Homo sapiens: one gene and its partners. The protein of the gene in region 2 interacts with the protein of the main gene of each other region in a biochemical or structural test. Each region holds a gene or a part of one and is shown on either strand. Other genes may lie near its edges. The genes, in order: OTUB1, ACVR1B, CRIPTO, NEDD4L and SMAD2.

What was found.
Region 1: of the proteins of ACVR1B (region 2) and OTUB1, one has a biochemical effect on the other in vitro, tested with the Homo sapiens proteins (one study listed by BioGRID).
Region 3: the proteins of ACVR1B (region 2) and CRIPTO form a complex in vitro, tested with the Homo sapiens proteins (2 studies listed by BioGRID).
Region 4: of the proteins of ACVR1B (region 2) and NEDD4L, one has a biochemical effect on the other in vitro, tested with the Homo sapiens proteins (one large-scale study listed by BioGRID).
Region 5: of the proteins of ACVR1B (region 2) and SMAD2, one has a biochemical effect on the other in vitro, tested with the Homo sapiens proteins (one study listed by BioGRID).

Annotation. Positions count from the first base shown.
Region 1 is NC_000011.10:63,991,787-63,997,568, forward strand, and holds part of OTUB1 (ubiquitin thioesterase OTUB1), read left to right. Parts: intron 1-4,743; coding exon 4,744-4,862; exon of another isoform or gene 4,863-5,070; coding exon 5,071-5,155; intron 5,156-5,263; coding exon 5,264-5,458; intron 5,459-5,562; coding exon 5,563-5,760; 3' UTR 5,761-5,782. UniProt on the Homo sapiens protein: Hydrolase that can specifically remove 'Lys-48'-linked conjugated ubiquitin from proteins and plays an important regulatory role at the level of protein turnover by preventing degradation.
Region 2 is NC_000012.12:51,988,254-51,994,035, reverse strand, and holds part of ACVR1B (activin receptor type-1B isoform a precursor), read right to left. Parts: intron 2,174-5,782; coding exon 2,043-2,173; intron 52-2,042; coding exon 1-51. UniProt on the Homo sapiens protein: Transmembrane serine/threonine kinase activin type-1 receptor forming an activin receptor complex with activin receptor type-2 (ACVR2A or ACVR2B).
Region 3 is NC_000003.12:46,574,928-46,581,343, forward strand, and holds the start of CRIPTO (protein Cripto isoform 1 precursor), read left to right. Parts: upstream 1-2,860; 5' UTR 2,861-3,042; coding exon 3,043-3,077; intron 3,078-4,167; coding exon 4,168-4,220; intron 4,221-4,304; coding exon 4,305-4,439; intron 4,440-4,811; coding exon 4,812-4,926; intron 4,927-5,023; coding exon 5,024-5,133; intron 5,134-6,204; coding exon 6,205-6,323; 3' UTR 6,324-6,416. UniProt on the Homo sapiens protein: GPI-anchored cell membrane protein involved in Nodal signaling. Cell-associated CRIPTO acts as a Nodal coreceptor in cis. Shedding of CRIPTO by TMEM8A modulates Nodal signaling by allowing soluble CRIPTO to act as a Nodal coreceptor on other cells.
Region 4 is NC_000018.10:58,364,121-58,369,902, forward strand, and holds part of NEDD4L (E3 ubiquitin-protein ligase NEDD4-like), read left to right. Parts: intron 1-147; coding exon 148-213; intron 214-1,878; coding exon 1,879-2,108; intron 2,109-3,625; coding exon 3,626-3,747; intron 3,748-5,782. UniProt on the Homo sapiens protein: E3 ubiquitin-protein ligase that mediates the polyubiquitination of lysine and cysteine residues on target proteins and is thereby implicated in the regulation of various signaling pathways including autophagy, innate immunity or DNA repair.
Region 5 is NC_000018.10:47,842,435-47,848,216, reverse strand, and holds part of SMAD2 (mothers against decapentaplegic homolog 2), read left to right. Parts: intron 1-2,416; coding exon 2,417-2,554; intron 2,555-2,732; coding exon 2,733-2,877; intron 2,878-5,782. UniProt on the Homo sapiens protein: Receptor-regulated SMAD (R-SMAD) that is an intracellular signal transducer and transcriptional modulator activated by TGF-beta (transforming growth factor) and activin type 1 receptor kinases.

The DNA of each region.
Region 1 (5,782 bases), on a different chromosome or scaffold from region 2:
TACTGAAGATAGAGCCATGCAGACAAAGTCCTGCCCTCACAAAACTTACAGTTCAGGGTGGAAAGACATGATAAGCCAAAGAGGGCTCTGGGACATGTGGGGTATCAGAAGGCGGTGAGTGCTGTGGAGAAAAATGAAAAGGGGATCGGGGCCGGGCGTGGTGGCTCACGCCTGTAATCCCAGCACACTGGGAGGCTGAGGCAGGTGGATCACCTGAGGTCAGGAGTTCGAGACCAGCATGACTAACATGGTGAAACCTCGTCTCTACTAAAAATACAAAATTAGCCGGGTGTGGTGGCGCATCCCTGTAATCCCAGCTACTTAGGCTGAGGCAGCAGAATCTCTTGAACCTGGGAAGTGGAGGTTGCGGTGAGCCGAGATTGTGCCACTGCACTCCAGCCTGAGTGACCAGAGCAAAACTCCACCTCAAAAAAAAAAAAGAGGGGATTGGGAGTGGGAGCATTTGCCATTTTAAACAGGGCTTGGTGAAGGCCTTGCTGATGAGGTGGTATTTGAGTAATGAACAGAAAAAGACCGGGGAGCGAGTCACAGGCGTCCGAGAGCAGTGCCCACCCAGGCCCGAGGCGAGAGGGCACCTGGATGGTTTGAGGCCAGCATGGAGGCCAGTGTGGCTGGTGGAGAATGAGGGGTTGGGGCTGGGGAACTGAGCGGGGCGGGGCGGGGTGGGGTGTTGTGGCGAGAGAAAGGACTCTGAGGGAGATGGAGATAGGGTGCATCTGGCAGGTGACTCTGGTCACTTTTCTTTTTTTTTGAGAGAGAGTGTTGCCCTGTCACCCAGGCTGGAGTGCACTGGAGTGCAATGGCACCATCTCAGCTCACTGCAACCTCCACCTCCCGGGTTCAAGCAATTCTCCTGCCTCAGCCTCCTGAGTAGCTGGGATTACAGATGCTCGCCACCATGCCTGGCTAATTTTTGTATTTTTAGTAGAGGTGGGGTTTCACCATATTGGCTAGGCTGGTCTTGAACTCCTGACCTCAAATGATCCACCCACTTTGGCCTCCCAAAGTGCTGGGATTACAGATGCCCACCACCATGCCTGGCTAATTTTTGTATTTTTAGTAGAGGCGGGGTTTCACCATATTGGCTAGGCTGGTCTTGAACTCCTGACCTCAAATGATCCACCCACTTTGGCCTCCCAAAGTGCTGGGATTACAGGCCTGGGCCATCACGCCAAGCCGACCCTGGCCATTCTCTTGCTGGGGTGAGAATAAACTCCAGAGGGTGAAGGGGAGGCAGGGACACTGCCAGGAGACTTGTGCAGTAAAATCTGCTGGAGGCGGGCAGCGGGTGGTAGAGGTGAGGAGTAAGAAGCAGTTGGATACCAGACATATTGAAGGGATGGATATGGTGATGGAGTCGGCAGCGACTGGAAGGCTTTGGGTGCTGTGGGTGACTGAGGTGGGGCAGCCTCGGGGAGGAGCAGTTGTTCGGAGGTTGATCTCAGCTGCACTCAGTGGAAATGCCTGTTGGACAGTTCAGAGGAGGTGTGGTGAGGCTGGTAGATAGGAGGATCGTAATTGGAGTTGAGAGTTGAGATTCACACTTGGGGCTATTTAAATCCTTGAGACTTTGGCTAGGGGCAATGGCTCATGCCTGTAATCCTAGCACTTTGGGAGGCCAAGGTGGGTGGATCACTTGAGGGCAGGAGTTCAAAACCAGCCTGGCCAACATGGTGAAACCCCATCTCTACTAAAAATACAAAAAAATTAGCCGGGCATAGTGGCGCGCGCCTGTAGTCCCAGCTACTCAGGAGGCTGAGACAGGAGAATTGCTTGAACCCGGAAGGCGGAGGTTGCAGTGAACCGAGATCGCGCTACTGCACTCCAGCCTGGACGACAGAGCGAGACTGTCTCAAAAAAAAAAAAAAAAAATTGCTTGAGACTGATGTCGTCAAGAGAGCAAGTATAATTTACATTTTTGTAGAGATGAGGTCTTGTTGTGTTGCCCAGGCTAGCCTTCAACTTGATCCTCCCCCCTTGGCCTCCCAAAACACTGGGATTACAGGTGTGAGCCACTGTACCTGGCCATGAGAGTGAGTGTAGTTTCAAAGAGGAAGCTGGCCGGGTGCGGCACTTTGGGAGGCCGTGGCAGGCAGATCACATGAGCCCAGGAGTTCGAGACCAGCCTGGGCAATATGGTGAAATCCCGTCTCTACAAAAAATACAACAATTAAATGGGTGTGGCGGTGTGCACCTGTAGTTCCAGCTACTCTGAAATCTGAGGTGGGAGAATTGCTTGAGCCTGGTAGGTTGATGCTGCAGTGAGCCGTGATCTTGCCACTGCACTCCAGCCCAGGTGACATAGAAAGCCCTGTCTCAGAAAAGAAAAAAAAAAGAAAAGTGGAAGCTGTCCCAGGCCTGAGCAGGGCGGGGTAGGCACATGGGAGACAGCCCTCATGCCCGTGGTCACATGGCAGGCACAGTGGCTAAGTGTGCAGTGACTGTTTTCCTTTTTCCTTTTTTGAAACGGAGTCTCCCTTTGTTGCCCAGGCTGGAGTGCAGTGGAGCGATCTCGGCTCACTGCAATCTCCACCTCCTGGGTTCAAGTGATTCTCTTGCCTCAGCCTCCAGAGTAGCTGGAACTACAGGTGTGTGCCACCACGCCCAGTTAATTTTTGTATTTTTAGTAGAGACGGGGTTTCACCATGTTGGCCAGGATGGTCTTGATCTCTTGACCTCGATATCTGCCTGCCTCAGCCTCCCAAAGTGCTGGGATTATAGGCGTGAGCCACCACACCCAGCCTCAGTGACTGTTTTCTTGCAGGTGACACACCATGTCTCGAAGGGTGCTGTATGGTTTGGTGGCATCCCTGACCCTCAGAGCTTAGAGAGATGAGGAGTGGCCTTGGAGGCAGGAGGAAGACAAGGAGAGGGTGGGGGCGCCAGCCCAGGGAAGGAGGCATCTAGGCAGGGCCACAGCCAGTGGCCTCAGTTCTGCTAAGGGGCCAGTGGGGGTGGGGCGCTGGGTTTGCCCCCTCTGATTGAGGGCGTTCAGCTGACCTTGGCTAGAGCAAAAGCCTCCCGAGGGAGAAAAGAGGTGGAGGCAGCACGGACAGCTTCATGAGGAGTTTTGCTGTAAAGAAAGCAGAGAAATTGAAGGGTAGCCAGACAGAAACGTAAAGTCCAGGATTCCCTTCCTTTTAAAGAAGTAGCTGAATGTGTATATGCTGTTGGGTCTAAACCAGTAGGGTGGGAAAAATTGATGATGGGGGTACTTCCTAGGATGATGTCTTTTTTTTTTGAGATAGGGTCTCACGCACTCTGTCACCCACGCTAGAGTGTAGTGGTGCCATCACAGCTCACTGTAGCCTCGACCTCCTGGGCCCACACAGTCCTCCGACCTCAGCCTCTCGAGTGGCTGGGACCACAGGATGCACCACCATGTGCAGCTCACTTGCTTATTTTTCAAGATGGAGTTTTGCTCTGTTGCCCAGGCTGGAGTGCGATGGCGCAATCTCGGCTCACTGCAACCTCTGCTTCCCGGGTTCAAGCGATTCTCCTGCTTCAGCCTCCCGAGTAGCTGGGATTACAGGCATGCACCACCATGCCGAGCTAATTTTATATTTTCAGTAGAGATGGAGTTTCGCCATGTTGGTCATGCTGGTCTCGAACTCCCGACCTCAGGTGATCCAACCACCTCAGCCTCCCAAAGTGCTGCGATTACAAGCGTGAGCCATCGCGCCCAGCCACTTATTTTTTTTAGAGAGACGGGGGTCTCACTGTGTTGCCCAGGCTGGTCTCGAACTCCTAGGCTTAAGCGTCCTCCCACCTTGGCCTCCCAAAATGTTGGGATTATAGGTGTGAGCCATGGCGCCCAGCTTGGAATGATGTGCTTGAGCCTGAGGGTGGGGGTGGGCTAGTGTGGAGTGGAGAGGCAGCTTAGGTGGCAGCTGGAACAGATCCTCTGAGGATTGTGGGAGGAGGCCAAAGGCAGATGTGCTGGTGGGGGCTGAGGAAAAAAGACAAGGTCATCAGCTGGGGGTAGGAGCAAGATGGGTAGGGGAGAGGGGAGGGTGCCCAGGCCAGGGGAGTGAAGTGTGCTTGCCAGGTGAAGTGTGCGTGGTGGGTGGGCACCTGTAATCCCAGCTACTTGGGAGGCTGAGGCAGGGGAATCGTTTGAACCCGGGAGGTGTAGGTTGCAGTGAGCCGAGATCGCGCCACTGCACTCCAGCCTGGGCAACAAGAGCAAAACTCTGTCTCAAAAAAACAAGTAGAGGAGGGAGGCTGTTTCTAGCCCCAGGAGGGCTGCGGGCAAGGCTTAGAGGTGGGGGAACTCTTCTCAGTGTGGCGGGAGCGGGGCTGAGCTGGGCTGTGCAGAGGGCCCCAGCCACCTGGTTGAGGCGTGGAGGCCAGCACTCCACCCTGGCCCTGACTTGCTTGCCCTGAAGTTCTCTTGGGCTGAAAGACTGGAGGAAACGCATTGCTCAAGGACATTCACTCACCTGTTGTTGTACAGTCCTGTAGGCCCCGCAGAACTTTAGTGACCCATGCAACTAGTTTGTCCTTAAGTGCCCAGCTTCCTGCCGTCTTTTGGGAGGACTCTGGGCAGTGGGCCGCTCCCATTGCCACATTCAGCAGCCTGTTTCAGGGACCCAGGGTGGCAGGTGGCTGCTGGGAGCTCAGTTGCCACCTTTGGAGTGTGACCTTTGCTGGGGGACATTTCCTTGGCCAGCCCCCGTTCTGGCCTGATGTTAACCTGTCGGGGTGGGGCTGTCTCCGCAGGACCTCCACAAAAAGTACTCGTACATCCGCAAGACCAGGCCTGACGGCAACTGTTTCTATCGGGCTTTCGGATTCTCCCACTTGGAGGCACTGCTGGATGACAGCAAGGAGTTGCAGCGGTGAGAAGGGTGGGCACTGGGCACCGAGGCAGGTGGGTGTCTACCTCCTCCCCGGGCGAGTAGGATGTGTCTCGAGTAGGGTGTCTCCCTCCTTCCCGGGCGATGGGCTGGACTCTGGCCTTGCCAGGCGGGGCAGTGCTGTCTCGGCCCTGGCGTCTGGGCTGGTCGAGGAGCCCATGCTGGGCCCGCCTTTCCATCCCACCCCCAGGTTCAAGGCTGTGTCTGCCAAGAGCAAGGAAGACCTGGTGTCCCAGGGCTTCACTGAATTCACAATTGAGGATTTCCACAACACGGTGAGCCCTGGTGCCTGTCTTGGGCTGGGCCATGGGGGAGGGGTTCACCTGGTGAGGACCACCCATCTCCTCCCCGTCATCTTGCCCTTTCTCCCTCCGTGGCTGCAGTTCATGGACCTGATTGAGCAGGTGGAGAAGCAGACCTCTGTCGCCGACCTGCTGGCCTCCTTCAATGACCAGAGCACCTCCGACTACCTTGTGGTCTACCTGCGGCTGCTCACCTCGGGCTACCTGCAGCGCGAGAGCAAGTTCTTCGAGCACTTCATCGAGGGTGGACGGACTGTCAAGGAGTTCTGCCAGCAGGTGCCGTCCCCCTCCCCTTTACTCTCGGCCGGGGGAGTGCAGTGGGCCCACAGGGCCTGGGGCGGGGTGCGGAGACCAGGGCCTGACCGGCACCTGTGCCACAGGAGGTGGAGCCCATGTGCAAGGAGAGCGACCACATCCACATCATTGCGCTGGCCCAGGCCCTCAGCGTGTCCATCCAGGTGGAGTACATGGACCGCGGCGAGGGCGGCACCACCAATCCGCACATCTTCCCTGAGGGCTCCGAGCCCAAGGTCTACCTTCTCTACCGGCCTGGACACTACGATATCCTCTACAAATAGGGCTGGCTCCAGCCCGCTGCTG
Region 2 (5,782 bases):
GCCGTTGGCATACCAACACTCTCGCATCATCTTCCCCATCACCCGCAGTGCCTGTGCAGAGACCCAGGAGCCATCAGCTCGGTCATGCCCTGGAGAAGCCTTTCTGGTCCCTAGGCTCTCACTCATTTCCCTGCCACCTCCCGCTCAGTGCAGTCTGGCAGATCCACATCCACCCGGCGGCCGACCTTAGGGAAATGCTCTGCAAGGCTCCCTTTGTTCCCTGGCTCTTCCTTTTTTTTTTTTTTTTTTTTTTTTTTTTTTTTTTTTTTTAGAAGGAGTCTCACTCTGTCACCCAGGCTGGAGTGCAGTGGCGCAATCTTGGCTCACCGCAACCTCCGCCTCCCGGGTTCAAGTGATTCTCCTGTCTCAGCCTCCCCAGTAGCTGGGACTACAGGCACACACCACTACGCCCAGCTGATTTTTGTATTTTTAGTAGAGATGGGGTTTTACCATATTGGTTGGCCAGGATGGTCTCGCTCTCTCGACCTTGTGATCTGCCCACCTCGGCCTCCCAAAGTGCTGGGATTACAGGCATGAGCCACCGCGCCAGGCGGCTCTTCCTTTTTAAGGGACAGCTTACACAAGTGAAAGGCAAACGCTGCAGCTAACGGCCAGCTCTTTTGGTCTCACCTGCCCTCTGAAGCAAACCCTGCCCTGAGGGTTCCAAGGAGTGCGGTGAGAAGTGCTGCTCTATGATGCAACACGAAAGCATCAGCTAATATGCAATTCTGTTCTGAAATGCAGAAATGCCCTCTAGTGGTTAGACTCGTTAAAGGCAGAGCCAACCTCTCTACTTGACTAGGTAAGTTCTGGGGCTCTAATGGACGGCAAGGTGACTAGAGTCAACAATACTGTACACCTGAAATGTGCTAACAGTAGGTCTCAACTGCTCTCACTACACACACAAGCAACAAGGTGAGGTGACAGATGTGTTCACTAACTTGTGTGGTAATCATGTCACAATACATACATGTATCAATTCAGCACTTTGTACACCTTTGTTACAATTTCATTTGTCAATCACACCTCGATAGAGTTGGGAAAAAAATAAGTAAAAGGAAATGCAGAACCGCAAGTGAAAAGGAGGCCCATGAGCACTTAGCTAGGCGAAGCCTGTTCCCCTGAACACTCTTAAGACCCTAGAATTCCATGTTTATTAGTACGTATGTCACAAACATGTCCTCATGTCAACTCTTTCCACCAAATGTTGTTTCCCCCACACCCCTGATTTCATCTGCCGTCTCTCCCAAATTCACATTCTCCATCCCAATCCCAGCCCTGTCATACACATCACCTCCTCCCTTCTGAGTTTCTGGAAAGACCACTTTCCTCACAGGCATGTCCTCCTCCTCTGTCTGGTCTCAGGGCTTCTCTTATGGACACCTCCTCCTCACTCTTCCATGGAGCTCAGCTCAGCTCGGGCTCCAGAGCTGCTTTCCTAGTTTGGTGTCTAACAGCTCTGGGTTCAGTTGTCACTTGTTGACCACCTCCCTCATCTGTGTCTTGGAGACAAAGCCTTGTCCTTTTTCTTTTATGAGACAGGGTCTTGCTCTGTTGCCCAGGCTGAAACGCAGTGGCCCAATCATGGCTCACTGCAGCCTTGACCTCCTAGGCTCAAGCAATCCTCCCACCTCAGCCTCCCAAGTACCTGGGACTACAGGTGGTGTGCCACCAAGCCTAATTTTTTATTTCTTGTAGAGATGGGGTCTCCCCACATTGCCCAGGTTTGTCTCGAACTTCTGAGCTCAAGCTATCTTCCTGCCTCAGCCTCTCAAAGCGCTACGATTACAGGCCTATGCCACCACACCAGGCCCAAAGCCTTTTCTTCTTCTAGGCTGTGAACTCCAAATGGCACCCTACAGGGTCCAGGACAAGAGACTGTAGCCCTAAAGGGCTTGGGATATGTAAAATAGCACGTAATAGTAAATAATAACTGACACTCTCAGGGGGCTCCTCTGGGGCCTGACCCCATTGTCAAGAAACCCTTTTCTAAGGTGGAGAAATCAGGCTGATGGGAAAGCCGCAGGAGGCCAGCTTCTTACCTCATAACTCTGCCACCAGTTGGGGATGTTGGGACGCAGCTTCTGATCACATACAACCTTTCGCATTTCCTCAATGGAAGGGTCAGAGGGCACTAAGTCGTAATATGGCAGCTGATATTCTTCATGGACTCCTGGGAGAAAAGAAAGTATCTACCTGAGTTATCAACAGCAGGAAAAGATTACTCAGAAGCCGGTGACAAAACCTACACTGTGCTCTGTAAATACCACTACCCCCTAAGGTTCCTTAGAAAGTTAGTTAATTCTAAGTATGGAACAAGAAATACACAAAAGGGGCCGGGCATGGTGGCTCATGCCTGTAATCCCAGCACTTTGGGAGGCCAAGGCAAGCGGATCACCTGAGATCAGTAGTTTGAAACCAGCCCCGCCAACACGGTAAAACCCCATCTCTACTAAAAATACAAAAATTAACCAGGCATGGTGGCAAACACCTGTAGTCCCAGCTACTAGGGAGGCTGAGGCAGGAGAATAGCTTGAACCCTGGAGGCAGAGGTTGCAGTGAGCAGAGATCATGCCACTGCACTCCAGCCTGGACAAGAGTGCAAGACTCTGTCTCAAACAAAACAACTAAACAAAAAGAAATACAAAAGAGTAGCCAGGAACATTTTTTTTCATAGCCAAAGCAAGGAATCTATCAAAGACTACTGGGGGTCACATCAAAAGGCACCAACTTGATAAGCTCCCAACTGAGCAAAGATGGGAACTTTTAAGTAACAATAAGACAAATAACTTCAATGGAAACAAATATTTTTAAAGTCTAAAAAAGGAAATTTCAGTCACCTACCTCTGTGGGAGGCTACAGAACCACCTCATTATTTTGAAAAATGGTAAATAAGTGGAAAGAATCAAGTATTTTTTCTGCCTCTCCTATTCCAACTATATATCATGGGAACCAAATACATATGTAGGGGAAGTAATCATTCGCTTAGTTTTGGACAATATCACCACGGCACGTTAACGACACAAAAATAGAGAACCAATGCTACGCAACTTGTCACAGAAGGACAGAGGAACCCCTGTGAAGGATACGTGTCCCCGAACCCCCAGAAATGATTCTAGCTGCCAGATCTAACTACCAATTCATAGGAAATACCAGGAAGAGTAGAATATGTGAACTCTACCTAAGCAATCTGCAAAATCTAGCCTGGGAAATTCTACAGGACAAATGACCTGGATTCTCCGAAAAAACAGAGTGGGAAGAAAAAATGAGGGGGAACATGTAGACAAGAAATGTAGGAGGTGTATTCATCAACTGCAGGGGATAAAACTTATTGGAACCCCGATTTGAACAAACTGCTTTAAAAATTTAGGAGACTGGGGAAATCTCAACACTGACTAGATGTTAAGTGACATTAATGTTTGCCAGGCACAATGGCTCACACCTCTAATTCTAGCACTTTGGGAGGCCGAGGTGGAAGGATTGCTTGAACACAGGAGTTCAAGACCAGCCTGGGCAACATGGCAAAACCCTTGTCTCCACAAAAAATACAAAAATTAGTAGGGCATGGTGGTGCACCTGTAGTCCCAAGCTACTCAGGAGGCTGGAGTGAAAGGTTCCCCTGAGCCTGGAGAGGTGGAGGCTACAGTGAGCTGTGATCACGCCACTGCACTCCAGCCTGGGTGACAGTGAGACTCTGTCTCAAAAAAAAAAAAAAAAAAAAAAGCACTAAATTTGTGTGTGTGTGTGTGAGTTTCACTCTTGCCACCCAGGCTGGAGTGCAATGGCGCAATCTCAGCTTAATGCAACTTCCACCTGCCGGGTACAAGCGATTCTTCTGCCTCAGCCTCCGAGTAGCTGGGATTACAGGTGCCTGCCACCATGCCCGGCTAATTTTTGTATTTTTAGTAGATTCGGGGTTTCACCATGTTGGCCAAGCTGGTCTTGAACTCCTGACCTCGGGTGATCTGCCCGCCTCAGCCTCCCAAAGTGCTGGGATTACAGGTGCGAGCCACCGCACCTGACCCCTAATGTTCATTTTTTTTTCCTTTTTTGAGACGGAGTCTCCACTGTTGCCCAGGCTGGAGTGCAGTGGCACGATCTCGGCTTGCTGCAACTTCCACTTCCTTGGTTCACGTGATTCTCCTTCCTCAGCCTCCCAAGTAGCTGGGACTACAGGCGTACGCTACCATACCTGGCAATTTTTTTGTATTTTTAGTACAGACGGGGTTTCACTATGTTGGCCAGACTGGTTGCAAACTCCTGACCTTGTGATCAGCCCACCTCGGCCTCCAAAAGTGCTGAGATTACAGGCATGAGCCACCGCGCCCGGCCTAATGTTCATTTTTTAAAGTGTGGTAATAGCACTGCATTTTTTTAAGTCCTCATCTTTAAGAACTACAAACTTAGAAAGATTTTCCATAATAAAAAGATAGTTTTAAAAAGCCAATTTAGGCCAGGCACAGTGGCTCACGCTTATAATCCTAGCACTTTGGGAGGCTAAGGCAGGTGGACCACCTGAGGTCAGGAGTTCGAGACCAGCCTGGCCAACACAATGAAGCCCCATCACTACTAAAAACAGAAAAATCAGCCCGCAGTGGTGGTGGGCACCTGTAATCCCAGCTACTCGGGAGGCTGAGGCAGGAGACTGGCTTGAACCCAGGAGGCGGAGGTTGCAGTGAGCTAAGATTGTGCCATGGCAATACAGCCTGGGTGACAAAGAGAAACCCTCTCTCAAAAAAATAAAAATAAAAAGCCAATTAATTTTTCTCAAGCCCTTTTCCAGAAAAAGAAAAACAAAACAAAACAAAAAAACCCTGCTGTCTTGAGCTAATGAGACAATTTTTTTTCTTTTAAGTAGAGATGGAGTCTCTCCTACCTCAACCTCCTGAGTAGCTGAGATTACAGGCGCCCGCCACTACACCCGGCTAATTTTTGTATTTTTAATAGAGATAGGGCTTCACATTGGCCAGGCTGGTCTCGAACTCCCAGGTGATCCGCCCACCTTGGCCTCCCAAAGTGCTGGGATTACAGGCGTGAGCCACCATGCCTGGCCTTTATGTCTGGCTAATTTTTTTATTTTTGTAAAGATAGAGTTTCACCATGTAGCCCAAGCTGGTCTCAAACTCCTGGCCTCAGGTAATCAGCCCACCCTGGCCTCTCAAAGTGCTGGGATTACAGGTGTGACACAGTGCCCAGCCTGGGAAATATTTTTAAATAGAGAATTGGACTTGGTAATTATCTAAGGGGTAGTTACAGGCTTAAGCCCTGGCCTCAGCCTGTCCGAGTCTGAACCCTTGTTTACTAAAATAGTTATGTGACCTTAGACAAATTTCCTAACTTCTCTGTGACTCATTTTCTTCATTTGTAAAATGGCGATGATAATAGCACCTACTTATTATTTACTTGTAGTAGTAAAGATTAAATGAGCTTATACATAGCAAGTGGTGAATAAATGTTAGCATTATTATATATTTAGCCTCAATTTCTGGATGTCATAAGAAGAAATAAACTTATTCACAGTTTAAGACCTGTGTGACCAGATTTTTCTTAGTTTGTTTGTTTTTTCTTTGAGATGGAGTCTCGCTCTGTCGCAAGGCTGCAATGCAGTGGCTCGATCTTGGCTCACTGCAAACTCCGCCTCCAGGGTTCAAGCGTTCTCCTGCCTCAGCCTCCCAAGTAGCTGGGACTACAGGCGTGCACCACCATGCCCTGCTAATTTTTGTATTTTTAGTAGAGACAGGGTTTCACCATGTTGGCCAGGATGGTCTCGATCTCTTGACCT
Region 3 (6,416 bases), on a different chromosome or scaffold from region 2:
TACCAAGAAATGGCCAACACCAAGAGCATTGTTTTTCATTTTCTGCTCTCAGTGCCTTTTGTAAGGGATGAGATGGGCTGCCTGTGATTGGGGAACCCCCGTTGCACAGCACTTCCCAATCCTAGGCCTGACCTTTTGACACAAAGCACTCATTGGCCTGGAGGCTGGCCAGCAGCCCAGTTTCAACAGTGACCAAGCAGAGGTGACCAGTGGCCATCCTAGGGTAGCCATTCAATTCCCCCACCTGGAGGCAGCAACAACTTTTTGCAGTTAGTACAATTAGAATCAACAATTACTGTTCTTTCTCTCCAGCCTCACAGTGGGGTTACTTCTCACAACTGTTTCTCCAGCGCCAAACTCCAGTCTACAGGCCGCCCAGTAGTAGACATCAAATACCTGTTAAATAGCCCTTACATCTCCAGCCCAACGGCAAATATCTAACCTCTCTTAAACACCACAGCCCTTCCCTTCCCCTTCTCCCCACCCCCCATCCCAAAACCTGGCCCAGGCTCTGAATACCCTGGATCCACTTGGCTTCCTCTGCAGTCAGTACCTATGGGGAATGGGAATCTCTTCAGGGGGTTCTGGTCCTTAGAGAAGGGATTTTGTGTGGCTGAAAAGCTGGCATCCTGGGGTTCTGGTCCCGTCAATGACAACATCGCCAGACTGGAGACCTCAGTTACTTCCTCTGAAAATGCAGTGATTTCCAGGGGTCCTATTTAAGCTCTAAAAATTCCACAAGAGCTTTAGATAAGGAAATAGCAACGCAGGGGTGTGTTCTTTTGCCAGTTCTGCCACAGGCCTGCCCAGTCTCTAAAGACAAGACATCCAAATCCCCCAATAGAACTAGTTGTCTTGTCCATAAAGTGAGACTAATATTGTGGGCGCTACTTATCTACTTAGCACCTTGGACTGGTGAGGACTGTGGTGCACAAGCTACCTTACAAATGTACCACACTGAGTAACATCTTTAAACCTCCTTGCAGCTCCAGGGCTAGCCTTCTCCTTTGCGGAGCCCTCCCCCACCTCCGGCCTCCTAGAGCTTCAGGCCATGTTCCCCTGTCCCCTGTGAATCTCAGCATGCTACCTGAAGCATTTCACCTGAAAAGGCCACACAGGGAGGAGGCGAAGCGCAGCAGGAATGAAATAGTCAACTGCTGTGGAGTTGGAAATGTTGCTGCATCCCACCATTGACTGGATGGGGCCTCACTCCCCCAATACAAATTATTTTACGTTTGCTTCTCCCAAGATCATGTGTAAGGCCGGGCGCGGTAGCTCATGCCTGTAATCCCAGCACTTTGGGAGGCCGAGGCGGGTGGATCATGAGGTCAGGAATTTGAGACCAGACTGACCAACATGGTGAAACCCTGTCTCTACTGAAAATACAAAAATTAGCCGGGCGTTGTGGCGGGCGCCTGTAATCCCAGCTACTCAGGAGGTTGAGGCAGGAGAATGAGGCAGGAGAATCACTTGAACCCAGGAGGTGGAGGTTGCAGTGAGCCAAGATCGTGCCATTGCACTCCAGCCCGGGTAACAGAGGGAGACTCTGTCGCAAAAAAAAAAAAAAAAAAAAAAAAAAAATCATGTGTAGAAGTAAATAACACCTCTTCCCAGCACCTGTGGATCCATGGCATTCACACAGGTAGGCACTGACGCTGAAATGGCCTCAGATGCTACCAATTCTTTCTGCCGAGGCCTAAATCCAATAAACAGAGATGGATGGAAACAACTATCTAATAAAAGTTTCGCATTTGTGTGCCTGGCAACATTAAGTAACCGTCAGGCTTTCCTTTAGAAATTGGAATTAAATGCGATTTAGAAACTATTAACGACTTTGGGCGTATTTAATAACACATGAAATAACCCGGAGGATTGAAATGTTAGGTGAGGCGACTCCGGCTCATAGACGCGCCTCTCCATCTGGGGCGTCTGGCACTTAGTGGAACCACTCAATAAACACGTTTACCCCTGCAAGCGGCACATCAGAGTCCGGGGGTAATTCTCGGTGTCGTGGGGCCAGGACGGCGAGGGGCTGGAAGAGGCCGCCCTGTGGGAGCTGGGAGGCTGAGATAAATTCCCGTGATTGGGGGCTGAAATGGCCTCCCATGCCGGACTGCCGTGGTTCTAGAACTTTTTCCTGGAACAGGCCGGCACTCCCACTGGAGAGTCCCAGCTGCTGCGCCTCTGGCCGCCCCTCCCCTCTCCCGGGCACCTGGCGCCGGCTCCCGCGTCCTTTCAGGAATTCACGTCCGCCTGGAATTTGCACTTCAAGTCTGGAGCCCCCAAGGAACCCCTCCTGACCCTGAACTTCTATCTCAGTTTCAAGCTTCCTAGTCTTCCCCACACACACACACCTAGCTCCTCAGGCGGAGAGCACCCCTTTCTTGGCCACCCGGGTATCCCCCAGGGGGAGTACGGGGCTCAAAACACCCTTCTGGAAAAACAAAGGTGGAAGCAAATTTCAGGAAGTAAAACTTCCTGAAATAAAATAAAATATCGAATGCCTTGAGACCCATACATTTTCAGGTTTTCCTAATTAAAGCAATTACTTTCCACCACCCCTCCAACCTGGAATCACCAACTTGATTAGAGAAACTGATTTTTCTTTTTTCTTTTTTTTTCCCAAAAGAGTACCTCTGATCATTTTAGCCTGCAACTAATGATAGAGATATTAGGGCTAGTTAACCACAGTTTTACAAGACTCCTCTTCCCGCGTGTGGGCCATTGTCATGCTGGTGGGCGTCCCGCCCACCTGAAAGGTCTCCCCGCCCCGACTGGGGTTTGTTGTTGAAGAAGGAGAATCCCCGGAAAGGCTGAGTCTCCAGCTCAAGGTCAAAACGTCCAAGGCCGAAAGCCCTCCAGTTTCCCCTGGACGCCTTGCTCCTGCTTCTGCTACGACCTTCTGGGGAAAACGAATTTCTCATTTTCTTCTTAAATTGCCATTTTCGCTTTAGGAGATGAATGTTTTCCTTTGGCTGTTTTGGCAATGACTCTGAATTAAAGCGATGCTAACGCCTCTTTTCCCCCTAATTGTTAAAAGCTATGGACTGCAGGAAGATGGCCCGCTTCTCTTACAGGTATGAGCTAATCTTGAATGTGAACTTTTTTTGATTGCTAGAGATTGCCAGCTTAGGAAGTAATGTTCTACACCTGTCATTTGATTTTTCTCTTGCTCAAGCCTTAAAAGAGCTGCCAACCGCACTGCTGTTTTTCCTGAAAGACCTGGAATTTCACATGGTTACTTCTAACTTTGCCATTGGCTTTTAACATTTTCGTGTTAATGTTAATTTTCATTTTATGTTAATGACTCTGCCTATGAAATAGTGTTTCTTTATTCTTGTACAAATAAAGGTCAGTACTACAACCAAATTTAAAATCTTCCGAAAAGATTAAAGGTATAAGCAGATTCAATACTTGGCAAAACTATTAAGATAATAGCAAAAAAAAAAAAAAAAACCCACATTTTTTACCTAAAAACCTTTTAAGTGATTGGTTAAAATAGTTTGGCCGGGTGCGGTGGCTCACGCCTGTAATCCTAGCACTTTGGGAGGCAGAGGCGGGTGGATCACCTGAGGTCAGGAGACCAGCCTGGCCAACATGGCAAAACCCCGTCTCTATTAAAAATACAAAAATTAGCCAAGCATGGTGGCGGGCACCTGTAATCCCAGCTACTCTGGAGGCTGAGGCAGGAGAATTGCTTGAACTGGGGAGGGGAGGCAGTGAGCCGAGATCGCACCATTGCACTCCAGCCTGGGTGAAAAACCGAAACTCCCTCTCAAAAATAAATAAATAAATACAGTAGTTTGTAAAATGATTCATCGGTAACATGGGATGCAGCTATTTTTTAATCCTTATATGAAAATTGTATGCAGGGGAAAACATGTGAAATAGAAGATAAAAGACATATACCTACTTAAAATTAGGTACTTATGTGAGGACAGGGCCTAAGAAATAATAATATATATTAAAAAGACTTGGATATTGGTGACTTTTTTTCAACATTTTTCTTTGTTACATGAATTAGCCATTAAAAAAAGAAAGATGGTGCTCTACAATTTCTTTTCAGTGATCTGTGGTCTTGTCCTTGTGATGAGAGGACCTGGGTGTTAACTTGTAAGGTTTTATTTCCTTTGTTTGGCTAACTCATGTCTGACTTCCTCTTCCTAGTGTGATTTGGATCATGGCCATTTCTAAAGTCTTTGAACTGGGATTAGTTGCCGGTGAGAGACCTTTTGTTCTTTTGATCACTCTCAATTTTTATGTGGCCTAAAATACAGACTCCATGAATTGATTTTGTCGTTAAGGGCTGGGCCATCAGGAATTTGCTCGTCCATCTCGGGGATACCTGGCCTTCAGAGATGACAGCATTTGGCCCCAGGAGGAGCCTGCAATTCGGCCTCGGTCTTCCCAGCGTGTGCCGCCCATGGGGATACAGCACAGTAAGAACTGCCTGACTTCGATGCTTCTGCCCTGGCCCTTCATGTGTCTCCTGAGTATCTTTCCAACACTCTTTCACCTAAAAGGGCACCTGGTTCTGGAACTGTGCAGGTGCTGGACTGCTTTTGGTTTTGGAAGTGAGACAAGGATTGTGTATTTTACTTCCCTAGAGTGCAGTTTTCCTCCCCTGAGTCCACTTCACACTGGGGAACCCAGAACCACCACTGGCCTATGCATGAAAATGACTTCTCTGCTCAAAGGCACAGAGACTTACTCTGATACAACACATTGGTGTTGTATTAACCTTCGCTTACAGGAATTGCCCTTGCACTTTTCCATCCCTACACCCTCAGTCATCTGTTCTTACCTTTCAGGTAAGGAGCTAAACAGAACCTGCTGCCTGAATGGGGGAACCTGCATGCTGGGGTCCTTTTGTGCCTGCCCTCCCTCCTTCTACGGACGGAACTGTGAGCACGATGTGCGCAAAGAGTAAGCAATTCAGAGGGGCGGGGAGCCGTGGAGAGGAGAGAGAAAGGGAAGTGGAAATTTCAGACCCAAGGCTATCGCCTTACCTGTTCATTCTCAGGAACTGTGGGTCTGTGCCCCATGACACCTGGCTGCCCAAGAAGTGTTCCCTGTGTAAATGCTGGCACGGTCAGCTCCGCTGCTTTCCTCAGGCATTTCTACCCGGCTGTGGTAAGCGGAGGTTCTCCTCTTTCTTTTGCCCTTTGAAGTTACGTAGTTGCCTTGGGGGGTGCTTAGTTAGCAGGCTCTCCTTGTACCTCTTGTCTTGCTAGAGCCTGGCAGCCAAAGTTCTGCTTATAAAAGCATCGCAGACTCCTGATGAGATAGTTGCCTTGGCCTCTTTGATATTTATTTCCTCGGGAACCTGGCTAGTCCTGCTGCCTTTCAGATAGAGATGTATTTCAAGTCTATTTGACATTTTATGGTCTGAACTTCTATTGAGGAAAATAAACAAGTCTCGGTCTCTTGTTAAACCAAGAGATGTTCTCTGGTGTTCCTTTCCTTTGGGTAGGGGGACCCAAACCAGGATGGGCAGCTCATTTAGAGCCCACCCTGACGACAAATTCTATCAGAGGCTTGGCCCCTTGCTAGTCCTTTAGAAACTTCCAGAGTCCTAAAAGTCCCTGGTAACCCCCTCCCCATACCTTACCATGACTGGTCACAGAACCCTTACCATGACTGGTCACAGAACCCTTTCACCTTCTTGATTTTTACTGATTTGAGGAATACAATGAAAAGAAGGGCAGCACCTGGAGAGGAAAAGAGGCGACAGTCCTCTCTCCACCCTAGCCTGAGCCAGGTTTCTAGGGCCCCCCAAATTCAGAGACCTATTATAGTTCTGGGCCTTGGAGATGTTAGAAATGGAAAATATTCAAGTCCAGGAAGTAAATGAAAGCAAACATTTCACTGAGAACAGGAAGGAATTCCCCAATCCAGACAGGGATTGTGTCTTTGCCATTTGCATCCTGGGTGTCAGGCTCAGGATAGGTGTTTGATAAGTGTGGGTTGGGTGATTGGATGTGTAGGGAACATGTTCTCTTCCTGGAACATGGGGCCCAATCAGAATCTAACCAGGTTGTGCTCATTCCTGCAAGTGAAGGCATCACCACTGGGCTAGGTTCCAGGTGTGAGTGTCCTGAGAAGAGCAGGTTCACAGTAGCGTATAGATATGCCACATTTGTGGGCAGCAGGATGAACTGCCAGAGAGGTTTGCTTTAATGACCAAGCATCCCTACCTTCCAGATGGCCTTGTGATGGATGAGCACCTCGTGGCTTCCAGGACTCCAGAACTACCACCGTCTGCACGTACTACCACTTTTATGCTAGTTGGCATCTGCCTTTCTATACAAAGCTACTATTAATCGACATTGACCTATTTCCAGAAATACAATTTTAGATATCATGCAAATTTCATGACCAGTAAAGGCTGCTGCTACAATGTCCTAACTGAAAGA
Region 4 (5,782 bases), on a different chromosome or scaffold from region 2:
AGACATTATCTAATTTTTCCATGGATAATCTGAGAAGTGAGAATTTACGGTTTATGACTCATGAAATTCTCTTGAATGTTGCCTCAGTATACATAAAATTTCAGGTGTATTGTTTGCATTATCTATATTTATAAATTTATCTTCCAGGCTGTCCCTTACTCCAGAGAATTTAAGCAGAAATATGACTACTTCAGGAAGAAATTAAAGAAACCTGTGAGTAATCATGCCTTCCAAAAATGCTTTGTGTTAGTCATTTGTAAGTTACCACAGTCACTTCAGTGAGAACAACTTGGTTGTTACTTTTATATGAATGCTAAAAATATTACCTTCCTTTTCTCTCTGCACTTTGATCCTCCTGGTTCTAAAATCTGAATTTTCTTTTTAACAGAAATGGTAAGTGAAAATTAACTCAGTGTTACATATCAAATCACCTGAAGGGTAATTTCCTATGTAATACATAAAAAGACAGGAATGATTTTTATGGGATATAAAATAATTCAGAACCCTAGTCACAAAATCTGTGGAAGCCTATTCAATTATGCGCAGTTATCATATTTAATTAACCTGGATCCCGGTAAGAAAAATGTTCAAGTCCTTCCTTGTAAATGCAAAAGCTTAGTTTCAACTACAGTATTTATAATATAGTGTTATATTTAATTATAATAATTGGCAGTATTACGTCCAAATGTAATTTTCTACTTATAATTATCCCTGGCAGTTTAAAACCTAGAAACTCTAAAAATTTTTATGGGCAACATTTTAAATTATAACATTGCATTTTCTAATGACACACCATCCCCAAATTGTTCAACATTGCATCCTCTGTTTTACTTTCCGATTCCTCCTTAGCAGTTTTCTCTTCAATTTTCTCCATCACTATGGTTACACCTCTAGGGAGGGGAGAGAAGCGGCTGCAGCTCAGACCCCCTCTGGTGGCCTGGGCTCCATTGCCATCTCTCCCTGCCTCCTCCCCTCAGCTGGTTCCTCCTGCCCGGGAACATCTCTGGATGGGGCACAATGTCTGCTCTCATTTAGGGGTTTTGGTCTCTGTTCCAAAGTCCTGATTCAAGAGCTTGCGGGTAACTGCTATTGAAATGATTCTTTGCCTTCAAAACTCAAATGATCACTGAAAATTCCACAGTTTTCTTTGTGAGTCATGTCCCCTGGTAATGATGATGACTGTGGTCATCACCCAGTCTCACTCTATGGCTCTCACATAGCAGTGTCTGCTACCCGGAAACCATCTCTGCACATTCATTCTTACAGCCAGACCAAGCCTGGACCGCCTCTTTGCAGGAGGCAGTTGCCACAACCTTGGTCAAGTGTTTTGTTATTTTCATGTCAGCGAACCATGCTTTGGGCTGCTTTCCCCACACTTGGCATAATCAGGATCCCACTCCCCATGGCAACAAAATGGACTTGAGGCAGCGTGGATTATATCTACCACCTGGCGGCCCTGCCACAGTTGAGCATGGATAGGCCCAACCTGGCCAGGTGGGGATTATTACAGGTTTTGACTACCTGGGCTAAAGTCTCTTGAGTGAAGCAACAGATACAGTCGACTGCCTTTCGGTTGCCCTATGCTGGAGAAGTGCCCACAGTTGTTTATTAAAGGGGGCAAGGAGGATGTTCTCCTTCGCAGCAGAGTTCTAACTTTCCTGAGCATCGCTAGTGGATGCCGTGTGTCCCATCGTGACACAGCAAGGCTTTCTGTCTGCAAGGGAAAACCCCTAAAGGAGAGAATCTCAGTTGGAACCATTTGTCACTGCCTGTTTCTTTGAGGACTGCCAACTTTTCTACCATTTGCTGTTGTTTTTATTAGAAAACAAAGTGTGTATTTACTGTATGATTATGTGTTTTCTTTTGTCTTTTGTGTAGGCTGATATCCCCAATAGGTTTGAAATGAAACTTCACAGAAATAACATATTTGAAGAGTCCTATCGGAGAATTATGTCCGTGAAAAGACCAGATGTCCTAAAAGCTAGACTGTGGATTGAGTTTGAATCAGAGAAAGGTCTTGACTATGGGGGTGTGGCCAGAGAATGGTTCTTCTTACTGTCCAAAGAGATGTTCAACCCCTACTACGGCCTCTTTGAGTACTCTGCCACGTAAGTATATGGCCACACCCAGTGTGTGTCCCCCACTGAGACAGTTGTATGAATTTAAACAGAATGAAAGGATAAGCAGCTCATGAGTTCGAGATGCATTAACTCTGCTGAGTTTGTTCTCTCCTCACCCCACAGCCCCTTGCAAGTCTAGAACAGGTTCTGACTCTACGTGGTGAAATAGTGTACTCTGCGAACATCTAACATTGATTTTTTTTCTTGTCTATTGGGTTCATGGAGTTGAAATTGAAAACGTGGATAATTATGATAAGGAACAGGAGGCGATTTTCATTTGCAGTGTTCAAGAGGAGGACTTGTCAGTGTTAGAATTCAAAAACAAAGGAGGTGTTTTTTGAACAAGAGTCGTTTCTGAGGTCTCCTGTGTAAAGGCAAATTGTAAGGACTTTGAGGACCTAGGACCATGCCCTGCTCCTGTAAGGAAAGAACCAGGTTTCCCCTTGCATTAGGATTTCATCATTGCCAGGCTTGGAAACTGAGGCAGACTAAATTGCTTTCTGAGCAATTAAACATCAGCTACTTCCAGGCCAGCCATTCCTCCTTCAGACTCTGAATCCTCCAAGGGTTGGGCAGTACCCAAGCCCCCAGTAGAATAGTCATTGACCTTGCTGAAGGGCATTTGTCATCACTCCAGCCCTGGGCTCTAAGGGGACGTGGGTTCCCCCACATCTCCCACCTGGTACCAGTCTCCTGGGGGCTCATTTGGAAGGCCGCCTCAGTACATTCTTCCTGGTTGCTCTAGCCAAGAATTGCCCAATTGATTTGTTGTTACTGAGTCCCATGAGAAAGCCCACTATGTACAATGTATCCAACTATTGAAGGTGGAGGGCAGGGTGGAGAGAGACAAGATCTTTACCTCTTCTCCACATTTTCAAAGATACCCCCACCCCGGAGGAATCAGTCTGTGATCCCAGTTTGAAAACTACTGATCCACATGATTGTGAACCAAGCAAGATCATTTGGACAAATCTAAAAATTTGCAGGTTTGCATCATTGAGAGAGCCATATCCTGTTCCTAATCCCCTCGAGGCCTTTTCAGAGCAGAGTAGTGGTCAGAAGACAGACCAAGGGTTGGGCCCATAGCAAACATCTTATGGCCAAGCCAAAAGCCTCTGGAAGGAATTAAACTTCCTTCATCACAGAGACGACCTAAAGTACTCACATCTTTGGGAATCCCTGCACAGCCCCTTTATTATGTGGCGTTTCTCATCTCCCCAAGATATTTGGCTGAACCATATGAAATAGACACTTCGTAGGTCAAAAACAGTCAAACATCAGCGTCTCTTATGGTTTAATTGACTTTAGAGGGCACATGCGTCAGCCTCCATGGTGGGTCACGGTTGAGCATGTGGTAAGTCAGGTCCTCTAGCCCACACATTTTCCCACTAGGTACAGAATGCTCGCAGGGACACTGTAAAAGTTGAGTGACAGGTGGCAAACAAATATGCAAAATCTTGCATTTGAAAGTGTGATTGGGCTTTTCTTCTCTTTCTCCTCAAAAGGGACAACTACACCCTTCAGATCAACCCTAATTCAGGCCTCTGTAATGAGGATCATTTGTCCTACTTCACTTTTATTGGAAGAGTTGCTGGTCTGGCCGTATTTCATGGGAAGCTCTTAGATGGTAAGTCTTGAAGTAATAAAAATAGGTCAGTGCTGCTTGCGGTTTGCTAGTAGGTGTCTTATCTTTCGCATCATGGGTTTTTAAGCAAAAGCTTCACTGGTTTACTCATAAAGTATTTTTATGTTTTGCCCATAATGGATGTCCTTTTCTCTGGTAGCTTATTTTGGGCACTGAAGACATAGTGTCTACACACAGTTAAAAACAAAAGTTTTTTTTTAACTTCAGTGTAAAACACAGAACATTATGTATTTATACATTTGTATGTTTTCTGGAATAACTTTAGTGAAAGCAAGATTTGATAACAGATGGAAAAACTAATTGAAAAGTTAATTAAAATGATCTCATCTATCTAATATCCTGTGATTATTGCGTTTGTCCCCAAATTATTTTTTAATTTGAAGGGACTAAATAATTTCAAAATAATGTTACTGCTTAGCTAAGACATTAACCCTGAAACAAATAACACAAAATAATTTCATTCTTATTTAAAGCATATAGATCATGGAAGAATTTCAAGGTACCTTGAAAGTTAGAAGTCAAACCCTCTACCTGGCGGTATCTATAGGCTTAGAGACTTCTAAAAGATTTGGCCAATTCAAAATAGTGTCCTTAAGAAAACACTACAGAAATCATCAGTGAGAAAAAAGCATCAGAAATACTTTTTAAGAGCCTGGAGGTAGAGTGGTTGAGGATGGGAAGAGGGAGAGTAGGATTTGAGATTGACATTGCAGTAACTTATAAGAAAGATATTTCCAAGGGAACTGTGTTCATTGCATTTATAGAGCCTTAGCTATTCTAATAAATAATTTGTATACCCTCTGTACTTTTCCCATGAATATGTTTTTACTGTTAATTGGTAGCTGATATTGATGCTCTGATTTTGTTGCTTTATTTGGTAGCAGGGCGACAGTAAACACTTTTTTTCCTCTAGAAGGAAACTAAACCACACACTCTTTCCATGTATGTATAGTGTGAATATATTTTAATTTCCAGCTTTGGAGTCATGCCATAGATTGTTTCAGCCTGCTCCAATTCACTCCAACTTTCTCAGAAGGTCAGTTTAGTCACCGTATGCAAGTGAGAAGATGCTGTTAGTTGCTACAGTGTCTTTAATACCCTCTCTAACAGGGGGTAATAGAGAAGCATAAGATATGATCCTGACCTTAGTCAGCTTATATTTTAGCGGGGGGAAAAGAGATGAGAACAAAACCAGAAGAATCACAGTGATAGTGTCTGAGCAGAAGGGAGTGCATTGAGTCCTCAGAGGAGAAAGTGACTTGGCTGGAGGCTCAGGGAATCTTTCCCAGGATGAGCTGCACCTCGGAGGTGGGGTAGCATTTGAGCGTTCAAAGGCTGGGGTCATTTCAGATGAGTGAGGACCAGCCCAGAGTCAAGGCCTTGTGGAAGAAGATGGGCGGAAGCAGGAACCACTCAGGGTCTCAAGGAGCTGGCTAAAGTGACCCCGACAAGAGTGATCACGATATAAACCTGGAATTGCACATTTAAGAGTCCAAGTGCACATAGATGGGCCTAGTCAGCAGTGTCTTCAAATTTCCCACAGATGGGAATGTCCCTGTCGGCAGGGCTCATTCTGCACATCTGTCCGATGGGAATGTCCCTGTCGGCAGGGCTCATTCTGCACATCTGTCCGCTGCTCCCCCTGGTCGGCTTCATGCTTTTACTTCCCCAGACACTGGAGTCTATTGGAGCCTGCATAGGGCCACGCTGAGCCGGGGAGAATTGGCCTGTACTGCAGAGGGTGGGTGCCTGGTGGGGGGATGAAGGAGCAGAAGCAGGAGCCTGGGGTGCCAGGTCTGGTGGGGTCAGGACCCCCTGTGAGGAGGTGCGTGATGCCTTTGGATCAGGTGAAATGGAGGCACCTGCAGGACGCCTGAATGGTGGGAGGCCGACCTCGCTGCTGTTGCCTCCCTGAGGCCTCTGCCGTCCCTCCGCGGGGGGTTGCACAGGCCCTCTCCGGGGCCTTCCCCATTTCCAGCCTGTCCCCTTCCTGTGCTTTCTCCCCATCGCTGCCCAA
Region 5 (5,782 bases), on a different chromosome or scaffold from region 2:
AATTTGCTGAGTCTCTACCAGTCATAAAATTGCCATGTTCAGATTTGGGGGTTAATACTTTTTTATAAATCATGTTTTTTTGTTTTGTTTTGTTTTTGTTTTTTTTCAGTTTCTTTATATAGCTCCCAGGTTTTTTCCCCCTTTGGTGAGTTTATATATTAAATGAAATCTGCTTGCTGTTCATCTGAAATGAGATATCTAAAACAAGAACTGCATTTAATATAGTTCAAAATATAATTCAGGGACATCTCAAAATGTGGTCTGGGGACTTCTGGTAGTCCCAGAAACCCTTTCAGCTAGTTTGTGAGGTCAAAGCTATTTTCATAGTAGTACTGAGATGCTGTTTGCCATTTCTACTCTCATACTCTCATGACTGTACAGTGGAGTATTCCAGAGCCTACATGCATATGATTTTGCAAGAGATGAAATGTAGATTTGATAATGAGACTCCAATTCTGTTACACTAGACATGAATGTTGAAATGTTGCCACTCTATTTTTTTTTTTTTTTTTTTTTGCTTTGGAAATATAGTTGTTTTTCATAGACAAAAATGGTGAAATGTTGCCACTCTATTTTTTTTTTTTTTGCTTTGGAAATACAGTTGTTTTTTATAAACATTGTTAATATGTAATGGATTTGATTTTTAAATGAATTTTTTAAATCTCAGTTTTTATATCTAATATGGTCATTTTCCATAATATTCACATAAACAAAAGCTCTTTGGGGTCCTCAGTATTTCCTTAACGATGAAGTGAAAAAGTGTGAGAACCATTCATAATTGAACATCATTCTCATCACCTTAAAGTAACTTCTTTTAACAGTAGTTTGCTTCTGTTTTTTTTCTAATTAACCATTACCTCCTGTGAGAAGTAATGCTGGTTATCAAAGTGTGATTTTGATACTGCAAAATGATAGTGACTAGAAGATCTATTACTTGGTTCCAAGTGGAAGTTCTCAAATCTTGCTTGATGTATAAATTTGGATAATCTTATTAAGATACCCAGTGTCGCTGTAGGTGCTTTAACTAAAATAGTTTTTTGTTTTTGTGACTTAATTGGGGTTCTGCAAAAAAATTTAATGGGTTTTCTCTGCCTTATTCTCTTCTCCCTCCAAAGTTTTAGATTGCTGTCGTTATTGGATTTTTTTAAATTTTTTATTTCTAGTTTTATAGGTGATATTGATCAGGGAATATAGCCTGAAAAATCTCTACTTTTTGGACTTAGTGTTTTCCCAATGACCACGTGCATGACTGTTTTACAGATATTCCATAGTCTTAACAGAACCACCGTACCAGGTTCTGTATTAAATCTGGAGTGTTAGTTGTTTGATTAGTTTTCTTTTGCTGTGTAACAAATTACCACAAACTCAGTGGCCTAAAACATCAGTTTTTTACCTCACGGTTTCTGTGGGTCAGGAGTCCAGACATGGGTTAGGCGGTCTTTTCAGGGTTTAACAAGGCCAAAATTGAGGTATCAGCTGGCTTGTGTTCTTATCTGGAGCTTGAGGTCCTCTTCTAAACCCACATGGTTGTGGCAGAATTCAGCTCCTAGATGCCTCCTGAATTCCTTGTCACATGGTGCCATCCATCTTCAAAGTCAGCAATGGAGAATGTCTCTTGTGTTGAATACCTTTCATGCTTTGAATCACTTAGCCTATGACAGTCTAGTCCCTTTTAAAGGATTGCCTGATTAAGGTTAACTGATTTGCTGCCTTAATTACATCTGAAAAAATCCTTAACAGCAGCACCTAGTGTTTGATTAACAGAGAATGTATGTGCACCTCAGGGCTGAGACTCTTAGGTGTCATGTTAGAACTCTGCTTCTCACAATTTTTTTTTTAATTCTTATATCTCATATTATTTTGCATCTGTGATCTCTCAGATTCTGAAAGAAGTATATTAAAAATCTCCCAGTAGAATTTTTTCTCACCTAATCATGCTTATACATCTAGAGGTTGGGTTTCCACCATAATATATAGTTTTTAAAATGGCAAATGACTTTTTGATGTTTTTACATCTTTTTTCTTAACATTAAGTGGGATCTCTAAGAAACTACAGTTGTAATGAAGATATATTTCTCCAAACATTAGTGAATTCCTTCAAAATTAACTCAATCTTTTACTTATCTTAATATATATCATTTGTATGAAACTATTTTACTATGTGTACTTTTTCTACATTGTTTAAATACTTTCAGTCAGTACACATGTATTTTAAAATCAATAAAATTATTGTTAGAAAATACTTGGGAGAAATATACAGTAGTATATTTAAAGTTAGACTTCAGAAAGACATTATCTGTGAAAAAGATCCTGGAAATACCTTATATCATTTTAGAATTTTTCCAAGAAAATGCTTCCAAAGTCACACTGAAATAGTAAATGTTACAAAACTAATCTCATTTGTATTTTGTTTCAGGAAGAGGAGTGCGCTTATACTACATAGGTGGGGAAGTTTTTGCTGAGTGCCTAAGTGATAGTGCAATCTTTGTGCAGAGCCCCAATTGTAATCAGAGATATGGCTGGCACCCTGCAACAGTGTGTAAAATTCCACCAGGTATGGATTCAATAATGTACATAAACCTATCATGTCAACTTGCTTAGTTTTTCTTGTTGCTAATTTTAGGAATCAGTAGATGATTGCATGCTCATATTCTAAAACTTGTAACCCTTTTAAAATTACTTTTTAATAATGATACTCTTTTGACAATTTCTTTTACCTTTTTTAATCATAGGCTGTAATCTGAAGATCTTCAACAACCAGGAATTTGCTGCTCTTCTGGCTCAGTCTGTTAATCAGGGTTTTGAAGCCGTCTATCAGCTAACTAGAATGTGCACCATAAGAATGAGTTTTGTGAAAGGGTGGGGAGCAGAATACCGGTATGAAATACATATTTGGTTCTTAAATTTCCACAGTGTAATTATGTTTCATTGCATTCTTGCATATTCTGGAGTTCATTTGTATCTATTTTCAATGAGGTTATAGAGTCAGCTGATCTTTATGTAAAATAAAGTTGGAGGCCTCCAAATTCAAAACTGTTGCAAATTACTGAGCTGCCATTATGGAAGATATTAAAACATGCACAGGCGTGCATTTTAACGTAATTCAGAGTGTTAAATATCATAAAAGGGGTGTATATGAAGGGTTATGTCAGTTTATGGAAGGAGAGATGTTTGCACACGGTGCTCAAGGAAAACTTGATGGCACATGATCTAGTTGTAAAAGGTGCATTGGATTTCAATAGTCATAAATGGGGTGGGCAGAGTTGGGAAGTGATAATCTTGACAATAGCATAGCAATTCAGTTTGGAGAATAGAAAAATAAGGCTGGACAATTAAATTGAGACAAACTAGATGTAGGTTAAGAGGAGGAACTTCATTCAGAAGTAGAAGGAATACTTGCTAATGTGCCAGGCACTGTGCTGTTTTAAGTGTAGTATCTAAAAATTATTATTTCTGTTGTCAATTCATTCTTTGTAAGGTTGAAATATATGAAATTGCCATCGTTGCAGGTAACACATGGTTCAAACTAATACATATTTGGAAATAGACATAGAAAGCTGATAATTTGCCCAAGGTTACATTATAAGTGGTTGAGATGGGACTGGAAGATAGTTCTCCTGGACTCTTTACCTCTTTTATAAGGATAGTAGTAACAATTATGTTTAAGTTTTACAAAAACTAATTTGTCATCAGTGGATAAGATAGTCTAGATTATTGATGAATTAAACAATAGATTGGATTTCACATCAAAGAGAGAGAAGACTTCTTGACCATATTTAAGAGTAGGAATTAAGTAAAATACTTAGTCTTTCTTCAATTCGTATTGCTTACTCCATATGCCTGCTTAAGAAATATTCATGTAATATAGTGATTGTATTCCTGCTTCTTCCAGCAATTTAGTCCCTTCCAAATTTATTTGTTTTGGACTTGCTTGTCTATCTTAAGTTTTGTCAGAAATCTGATTTGAGATTGTGCAATGTGAGGTCTACTTGTTGAATACATTTAAAAATATATGGTATATATTTGTATCAGAGAATGAAGACTTGTCACTATTTTTTTCTGAGTTATATTGGTAGAATAATTCATTTTGTGATTTTGCTGTAGTTCTGTTTTGATTATTACCCTTTTGAGATGTTGTTACCTGTTAAGAATGCTGAATGCCGTTTTTTAAAATTAGACTTGACCTGAGTTGATAGCAAAATTAGATTTAAATTATATTGTCTAATAAGATTTCAGGTCAGACTTTTTTTTGTTCTTCAGAAGGTTAGAATAATGCAAAATATGGTAGGAATTTAGTGGAAGTAAGAGTGAATTACAGAGAGAATTCCATGTGTATCTATAGATCTGCTAAGAACAGTTTTACTTGGTAAAGATACTGCCCTTCTTCATTCACTGTGGACTCTGCTGTTCTTTAACTCACAGATAAAGTAAAATCTGTAATTACAGAAGCAGTAATATGCAGTATGTTTTTATGAGTATTGGGAGTCAGGTACATCTGACTTTGGAAAATCAAGTAGTTTCCTGTAACATTTACAAATCAAAATGGCAAATATCCATCTATCTGTGGATATGTGGGTAGCTACCAGGAACTTACTGTCTGTAATCATTCTGGAGCTGAGGAAATAGACCTAATGTTTAGGTTTCTAAAACTATTTTTTTTAAATTTCCTTAATGTCATCTTGGTTGTTAGCACAAAAATGAGGAAATGTAGTAAACAGGAAATTTAGATGTATGAAGAATTTGTATTTAATCGAGTGGCAGCCTTCTTAAACCTACTCCCCTTGGGTGACCTGGATTATGGATTATTCTAGAAAGGGAAGTGGGACAGGGGAGAACAGGGCAGCCAGGACCATTGTTAAGCCATCTACCAGAGTGGGTGGGTCACTAGAACTGACACCCTTGGGGAAACTCTAGGAAACAGTAAACAGTCTACAGAATTATCCTACCCAGGGGAACAGAAGTGCTGGGCATGTAAATGTCAATTTCTGTTTCCTTGGTTGAGGGCTGCTCCTGGGGATGCTTCTTTCCTGGCACCTCTAGCCTTTTTGGGTATATCAGAGAAGTTCCTGGGCACAGAAATGCAGATACCTGCAGTTGGAAGTTGTCTAGAGCACACTGAAAAATCCAAAGGGTACAGTGGGGCACTGATACCATCTGCCTCAGAAAGTGACATCCTTGGAAGTACAGTTTTAAATTACATTGAACATGTGTTGCTTGGAGATGAAGAGTTGATAATGGGCTTTTCTCATATTTGAAGGGCTGTTAGTTTGTAGAAGCAAGTGGATTTATTGACTTTATTCTGTATAGCAAATAAGATGGAACTAAAATCAGCGCATGGAAGTGACAGGATGTCATTGAATAATTTGTAATTCTCTTAGAGTTGCCCCTTTTGTTGAAGCACTATTAAAAGCCCGAATGGTGTTGCTAAGAGGGATGTTCATTGGCTTTGGCAGGGAAAGTTGAATTCCAGCTTTTAACACTCTCTGTGGTGTGGGTTTAGCTTGGGCCAAAATTTTGTTTTTGCTTTGGTATACTTTTACTTAGATTCTGTTTGATATTTGAGTATCTACTATTCTGTGGTTGATTTGGTAAGTACAGTTACTTTATGTCTTGGTTTGCTTGGACAATCCTGATTCACGTGTCTCCTTTTGGCCTGATTTTTTTCTGCCCCCCACCCCGAGACAGAGTCTCACTCTGTCGCCAGGCTAGAGTGCAGTGGCATGATCTCGGCTCACTGCAGCCTCTGCCTCTTGGGTTCAAGTGACTCTCCTGTCTCAGCCTC